Linked DNA regions of Homo sapiens. The protein of the gene in region 2 interacts with the protein of the main gene of each other region in a pairwise test. Each region holds a gene or a part of one and is shown on either strand. Other genes may lie near its edges.

The links.
Region 1: the proteins of CCDC125 (region 2) and ZNF883 interact in binary tests that used the Homo sapiens proteins (3 or more experiments, as listed by UniProt).

The regions. Positions count from the first base shown.
Region 1 is NC_000009.12:113,009,141-113,013,658, forward strand, and holds the start of ZNF883 (zinc finger protein 883), read right to left. Parts: upstream 3,053-4,518; 5' UTR 3,010-3,052; intron 2,088-3,009; 5' UTR 2,001-2,087; intron 1-2,000. UniProt on the Homo sapiens protein: May be involved in transcriptional regulation.
Region 2 is NC_000005.10:69,284,236-69,288,054, forward strand, and holds part of CCDC125 (coiled-coil domain-containing protein 125), read right to left. Parts: intron 1,233-3,819; coding exon 1,102-1,232; intron 1-1,101. UniProt on the Homo sapiens protein: May be involved in the regulation of cell migration.

The DNA.
Region 1 (4,518 bases), on a different chromosome or scaffold from region 2:
AAGTTATGTCACTTCTCTATTCAAAACCCTATGAAAATTGGTAAATTATATGTAAATCTTAATAGAGCTGAATAAACAATAACACCGAACACCATCACCTCCTACGTTTTCTCTTCTCATTCAGCATAAAAGCCAAACTGGCTGTGGCCATACTAGCCTGTGTGCTGTGTGGTCTGCACGCCTTACCTCTCTCATCTCAACTCCTACTGTGCTGCTATCACTCACCCCTCTCTGGCCACGTGGCCTTCCTGATGCTCCCACAAAGGTTAAGCACATCTGCACCTTGAGGCTTTGCATTTGCTGTTGCTTCTGCTGAGGAACTTAATCTCCCTAATCCCCCTCCCCTCCCCAAGTATCTACAAGGCTCATATTCCTTTTTTTTTTTTTGAGACAGAGTCTTGTTCTGTAGCCCAGGCTGGAATGCAGTGGCGTGATCTCGGCCCAGTGCAATCTCCACCTCCCAGGTTCAAGCGATTCTCCTGCCTCAGCCTCCCGAGTAGCTGGGACTACAGGCGTATGCCGCCACGCCCAGCTAATTTTTGTATTTTTAGTAGAGACAGGGTTTCACCATGTTGGACAGGATGGTCTCAATCTCTTGACCTCGTGATCTGCCTGCCTCAGCCTCCCAAAGTGCTGGGATTACAGGCATGAGCCATCACGCCCGGCCCATATTCTCATTTTCTATAATGTCATCTACCAGTGAAGCCTTCTCTTACTCCCCTATATTAAATAACAGCTGTCCTATGCCTTCCCTAGCCCCATTACTCTGGTATAGTTTCCTCTATTCATCACTATGAATGATGTTCAGTAGGTTAGGTGAATTAGTACATTTTTGAATTAATATTTTCAACTTACACATTTACTGGAATGTAACCTCATGCTCAGTTGAGGAACATCTGTGTTTACATTATTGTCTGTGTGCCCATCCAAGACTGTCAGTTCCACATAGGCAGAAACTTTGTGTTATTCACTGTTATATCCCAATGCTTAGAACATTAGCTGGCAAAAAGTAGGTGCTCAATGAATATTTATTCAGTGAGTGAAAGAAAGAAAATTTTCCCTCCCTCTGGACAGAGGTGATATTTCAGGAAATAAAAAATACAGCAGAGCTGCGTTACAGACACACATGTATATTTTATTTGTACAAATCTGCCCAACAGGCTCAAGAAAGTATGTTATCTAAAGGTAAGAGTGAGATGGGAGAATCTCCTGTTTCCTCAGTCTCACTTCTTACAGCCCTCTCGTAAGTGAGCATCTTGCTATGCTGAGTTATTTTAATGTTTAAAGAACATAGTCGGGGTACATTTACACATGTATATTATTGCATGGTTGTATACACATTACATGTGCATACACGTTATGAACTATTGTTCATAACAATGTATTCTTGAAAATTGCTATGAGAGCAGTTTAAGTGCTCTCACCACAAAAAATGAAAAGTACGTGAGGTGATGCATGTTCATTAGCTTGATTTAGCCATTCTACTACGTATACATATTTCAAAACAACATGTTACACATGATGAATATATAAAATTTTTATTTGTCAGTTATAAAGAAAAATTAGGCCGGGCACGGTGACTCACACCTGTAATCCCAGCACTTTGGGAGGCTGAGGTGGGCAGATCACGAGGTCAGGAGTTTGAGACCAGGATGCCCAACATGGTGAAACCCCATCTCTACTAAAAATACAAAAATTAGCCGGGCGTGGTGGTGCACGCCTGTAATTCCAGCTACTCAGGAGGCTGAGGCAGAAGAATCGCTTGAACCCAGGAGGCAGAGGTTGCAGTGAGCCAAGATCGTGCACTGCACTCCAGCCTGGGCAACTGGACGAGACCTTGTCTCAAAAAAAAAAAAAAAAAAAAATTGAGAGCAAATAATGAGCAATAAAAGAGATTATCAAGGGACGTTTAATTGCATATGATTTTTCCACACTGCAAGATGGAACTTTAGAAATTAAACCCAGCTTAAGGTACAAATGCCTTGAAAAGTTTTGCTCACCAAAGACCATGTAGTCAGGGGCCAGTGGTCAGGTCCTTCTTCTTGATGCCATCTTATATAAGTAAGTAGAGACCTGAGAAAGCAGAGCTGAAAAAGGAAAGGGGCCCTGAGAAATCAGGACTGTCTTTATGAGAAGCCTGTCTGACTACCTGGATATAACCCACACCCTCTGTAAAAATGTCAGAATGAATCTAGGAACAGATTCTTTCCCTGCAGAGTACAAAGTGAAAGGCCACTTACATTCCTCTCTCTGGTCACTGGTCCAATCTGACAAACCAGAAACAGGGCTAACTTTATCCTCCCATGATGGGTGGCACCGAGTGCACCAGCTCCCTCTTTGTTTGTTAACAATACTTGTAAAGCATATACAATTTTTCGAAGTGCATTCACAAATGCCATCTCAAAGAACAAACAATTGCTCTTCGTCGCCCGCAGAGTGTAGGGAATCAATTCCACAGTTCTTTATAGAAGAGACTTCAGAAATTTACCAGTAAAACGAAACAAGCTATCTCTAGAGAGGAGGTGAGTTTCTGAGGAAAGAGCAAGAACTGGATGTCGGGAAACCTAAATTCTAGTTGGCACTAAATACGTATATCACGGTTTTCTTGCAATTCCCAGGTCTACCTACCACCAAGGTCTGGGGTGGTTGCCCCTCCCCAGATAAACTGCCCCCCATCACAGTCAAAGCAAGGCCCAAAAGCTCTGAGCTCTGTTCTCATGACTCTCCAACCCAGAAGAGAACCCAAGCCCCTGACTGTTAAGGCTGGGATGAGCAGACACGGCTTTGCCTCCTCCTCACCCTGAAGCGGGATGCTGGCCCAGGTCACCACCACCCCTCCACTGCAACGTGAACCAAATACCCAGCCTGACCTAATCGGCTTTCCTCCGCCCCCGGGCCCGGCCAATGCATTCTCAGGCCTCTCCCGACCCGCCCGAATGGTTGTGTTTGAAGGGGACCTCTCTCCCCACCTCCCACACGAGTGCAAGGGTCGGGAAAGAAAAAGCTCACCTGCTCCACCGAAAAATAAAGAGCACGGTCGGGCGATGTGGTTCCCAAGCCAGGAAGTACGCCTGCGCACGCGGCCGCCAGGAACTACATTTCCCAGCATCTTCTGCAAAGCGCCCTCTTGAGCTGCGTCTTTCACCGGTGTCTTTCTAATGCTTTGCGGGTTGCGAACGTGCGTCGTTTCCATCGTTGTTTACATGAAAAGAAGAAAAAAGGAAAAGATTTTTTCTTTTGCTATAAACAACTGTAAATCCAAAGAGATGCAAAGTTTGCGTTAACAACACCCCAGACACAAAAGTAATACCTATTCACTACATTAATAGATGATTTATAAATAACTCTTTATTCAACAGATAAAAAACCAAACTACCCAGATGGATTCATTGCAGAAATATTTATTAACGCAGTGATTAATATTTTTTAGCATTCTAAAAGTAAATCTCTGATTTATAGCTAGCTTCTTTGTTATGAGTGTGTGTTGAGGGGACGGTGGCGGGGGGGCGGGGCGGGCAGAGACAGGGGGCAGAGAGAGAGACAGCGAGCAAGCACCAGAGAGATTCCATCCAAGAATGAGGTCATACTTTTGGGGTAGATTTTTTTCTAGCTTTTTTCTTCCTGTTAGGAACTTAGGTTATGATCCCTTCAGTGCTACCAAAAATAGTATACTGATGAACATCCTTGTAGAGTAATCTGTTCACTCCTCCACATCTGTTCTTGACAAAAACGTCCGAAAAACGAATATAATGAAGAGGGAATATGTATATCTAACTTTTTTCTTAAACAAACGAATATAGATAGATAGACAGATTGTAGATAACAGAGAATAGAGGTAAGGAAAAAGAACAAAATTAGTCAGATAAAAGTTCACTCCAAGATACTCCCTATTATATATTTAAATATGTAATTTCTATGCATATATATACAAATTCTGTATAATTAGATATTCTCAAGTATAAAACTATACATACTTTAAAAAATTGCTTTATTGAGCTATGATTGATATAACTGTACACAGTTAATATACACAACTTGATGTGTTTGGAGGTAAGTATATATACCTGTGAAACCATTAAGCCATCATGCCATCAATCCCATAAATTCATCTATCACTTCCAAAAGTTTCCACCCCTTTGGGCTTCCCCCACCTTTTGTGGTAAGAACACTTAATGTGAGATCTACCCTCTTTACTTATTTTTAAGTATATAATACACTATTGTGAATCATAGGCTCTTTATGGTAAGAAGACATCCAGATCTTATTTATTGTGTATAAATAAATACTGAAACTTTGTACTCTTTGACCAAAACCTGCCTATTTCTCCCTCACCAGCCCCTTCACCATTTTACTTTCTGTTTCTATGTATTTCCCTATTTTTGATTCCACATATAAGTGAGATCATGCAATATTTGTCTTTCTGTGCCTAACTTCTTTCACTTAGCATAATATCCTCCAGTTTCATCCATGGTGTCATAAATGACAGGATTTCATTGTTAATAAGGCTGAATAATATTC
Region 2 (3,819 bases):
ATATCAACGTGCATATTTATAAAATAATGTTGAAGTTATTTGTATATAAAATTGCTTTCATATATTTGTATGCAAATATATAACAGTCTAGAGATAAGTATGTTCATATAACCTGAGTCTCAGTGTCTTAGTTTAGTCATTCCATGTGGAATGTGGGTAGCAGGACTGTAAAGGATATAATGTGTGAGGAAATGCCTTGAACACTTTAAAAATGCCTCAATAAACAGGCAGACTTGTCACAAACTGTATATATATAAATGTAGATGGCAAAGCTGGCTGGAGTTAACTACAGGAGCCCCCTGTTTTCCAAGATGGAGCCTTTAAACCTGCACAGAAAGAATATGAATGACGAGAAAAGATGAGCTGAGGGAGATAAAGATCATGAAGGTAGAGTCTGGTACTCCAACTGGGAAAAGGACATAGAAGGCAAGTGCAAGTCTAGAGAGATAAAGAGTTGAATTAACAGGAAGCAAATAGATTAGCTTAACCTAGGGGTGTCCAATCTTTTGGCTTCCCTGGGCCACACTGGAAGAAGAAGAATTGTCTTGGGCCACACATAAAATACACTAACACTGGCTGGGCATGGTGGGTCACGCCTGTAATCCCAGCACTTTGGGATGCCGAGGTGGGCAGATCACTTGAGGTCAGGAGTTTGAGACCAGCCTGGCCAACATGGTGAAATCCTGTCTCTACTAAAAACGCACACACAAAATTAGCCAGGCGTGGTGGTGGGCGCCTGCAGTCCCAGCTACTCTAGAGGCTGAGGCAGGAGAATTGCTTGAACCCGGGAGGTGGAGGTTGCAGTGAGCCGAGATCGCGCCGCTGCACTCCAGCCTGGGTGACAGAGACTCTGTCTCAAAAACCAAACAAACAAAAAAACCAAAAAACAAACAAAACAAAAAAATACACTAACACTAATGATAGCTGATGAACTAAAAAAATATATATATATATCAAAAAGATCTCATAATGTTTTAAGAAAGTTTACGAATTTGTGTTGGGCCACATTCAAAGCTGTTCTGGGCTGCATGCTCCCCACGGACCGTGGGTTGGACAAGCTTGGCTTAACCATAACCTGCAAAAAAAAGCAAAGACACTAACCAAATCTATGAGCATCTTAAGGACCTCTTGAGGACTGTCCTGGTCTTCCATCCTCTTAGAACTGTTTTCTGAAGGGAGCATACCCAACAGTCTCTGCCCGAAGGTCTTCTTACTCCTTGGTGATGGAAATCCTAAAATTGAACATGAGAATCCAGCTGAGACATTAAAATATCCTCACTGATATACTTCCAGCAAAAGAGGTAACTTGATCTCTAGGACAAGTGAGTCCAGGAGCACACAGTGGAATGTAGTGAGCAGAGCACAGCCTTCAGAGCCAGGAGCAATGCAGGTGAGAGGCAGCAAGAGTGCCGCCCTGCCATGCGGCACAGCCACCCCTCTGTGCCAGCTGACACACAGGCCACACAAGAACACAGTCCATGTCACTGGATCATCACAGTCTTCAAGAGCAGCCAGAAATGCAGATCTGTCATGACATCTTCCAATTCTAAATGTCAGCCACTAGTCTTATTGTTTGACTACACTAAGCCAACCTAACAAAACATGTCTGCAGGCCACAGGGGGCCTCTGAGCCATGCAAACTCTGCTTCCGAACAGCAAAGACCTGGACTTGAATCCTCATTCAGCCACTTACTAACTGTATGACCTCGGGTGACTTTTCTCAGCTTGATTTCCTCATCTCTAAAATGAGAATAGCATTACCTTCTTCTCAGGGAACTGTGCCATTAAATAATAAATCACACGGGCTGGAGAAGGGGAAGTGAGGAGTTACTGTTTCATGGGACAGGGTCTCTGTAAAGAAAGATGAAAATGTTCTGGAGCTGGATGGTGATGAAGGTTACATTACAATGTGAATATACTTAATACCACTTAAAAACAGTTCAAATGGTAAACTATATATATATATATATATATATATATATATATATATATATATATAATTTTTTTTTTTTTTTAGATGGAGTCTTGTTCTGTCACCCAGGCTGGAGTGCAGTGGCGCAATCTCGGCTCACTGCAAGCTCCGCCTCCCGGGTTCGCGCCATTCTCCTGCCTCAGCCTCCCGAGTAGCTGGGACTACAGGCGCCCGCCACCACGTCCGGCTAATTTTTTTGTATTTTTAGTAGAGATGGGGTTTCACTGTGTTAGCCAGGATGGTCTCGATCTCCTGACCTCATGATTCGCCCCCTCTTGGCCTCCCAAAATGCTGGGATTACAGGCGTGAGCCACCGCGCCCGGCCAACTTTAGATATATTTTACCACCATCACGACAACAACAAAAAATACCACAATTGTCAAAGGCCCTGCTCAGGTATTAGCATAATATTTAATATTTCACGTGCTGACATCATTGATGTCCTTCTTCATCCATTGAAGGAAAGTAATTTGCAGAAGTTATAAAATCTCAGATTGTACAAGGAAAATTTCAAGAATGTTTTTGGAATATTCTCCAAAAGTGGTTTAGTGGGAAACTGAGAGCAGATGAGGGGAGATCCCCTTCCCACCAATCCTGACAGACCACAGTGACGAGGGCGGCCCTGACCCCTTCCACGAGGAGCTGTGGCAAACAGAAGTCAGAGAAACTGACACTTTGATGAGTAGATGAATCTGTGTCCCTATTTTCAGTCTAAAAAAAGAAATAGCTTGGTGTGATGGCTCAAGCTGGTAGTCTGGAGGATTGCTTAAGCCCAGGAGTTTAAGATAAAAAAAAAAAAAAAAAAACCCAAAAGCAAAAATACAAAGAAAGAAAGAAGTATGCCTATAAACTACTTCCGGAAACTTGTCTAAACTGCCATATCAAAAAGAAAGTTGATATTAAGTGTTACTAAACATAAAATAATCTGTATCACCCTGTACCTCTTAAGATTACTGAAATATACTAATAAAATGAATTAAAGTCTTGTCACTGAGAAACTGAGAAAGAACTACTCAAACTTGTATAGATTTATAAAAGCTGTGCGAGATTAATCAATTTTTTTTTTTTTTTTTGAGATGGAGTCTCGCTTTTGTCGCCCAGGCTGGAGTGCAACAGCGCAATCTTGGCTCACCACAACCTCTGCCTCCCGGGTTCAAACATTTCTCCTGCCTCAGCCTCCCGAGTAGCTGGGATTACAGGCTTGTGCCACCACACCCAGCCAATTTTGTATTTTTAGTAGAGACAGGGTTTCTCCATGTTGGTCAGGCTGGTCTCAAATTCCCGACCTCAAGTGATCCACCCACCTCAGCCTCCCAAAGTCCTGAGATTACAGGCGTGCCACTGCACCCGGCCATCAGTTTTTGGTGGTTTTTTTTTTTTGAGACAGGGTCTTGCTCCATCACCCAGGCTGGACTGCAGTGGTGGGATCATGACTCACTGCAGCCTCAGCCTCCCAGGCTCAAGCGATCCTCCCACTTCAGCCTCCCTAGTAGCTGAGACCACAGGTATCTACCACCACACTTGGCTATTTTTTTTTTTTTAATAGAGACAGGGTCTCCCTATGTTGCCCAGCCTGGTCTCAAACTCCTGAGCTCAAGCAATCCTCCTGCCTCAGCCTCCCAAAGCGCTGGGATTACAGGCATGAGCCACTGTGCCCTGCCTATATCAATTATTTAAAATTCTGCCTTCAGTCTCTCTCAGTGCCTTACTGGAACTCAGAGATTGGGAGCTATACCCCTCTGAATTGCATTTTTTGTGGGAATCTTCCTTAGATTTGTCAATAGCTGAATGTGATATTGTAATATAAGAAATATATATTTGGTCTTTGCCCTCAGTTCCTGACATAG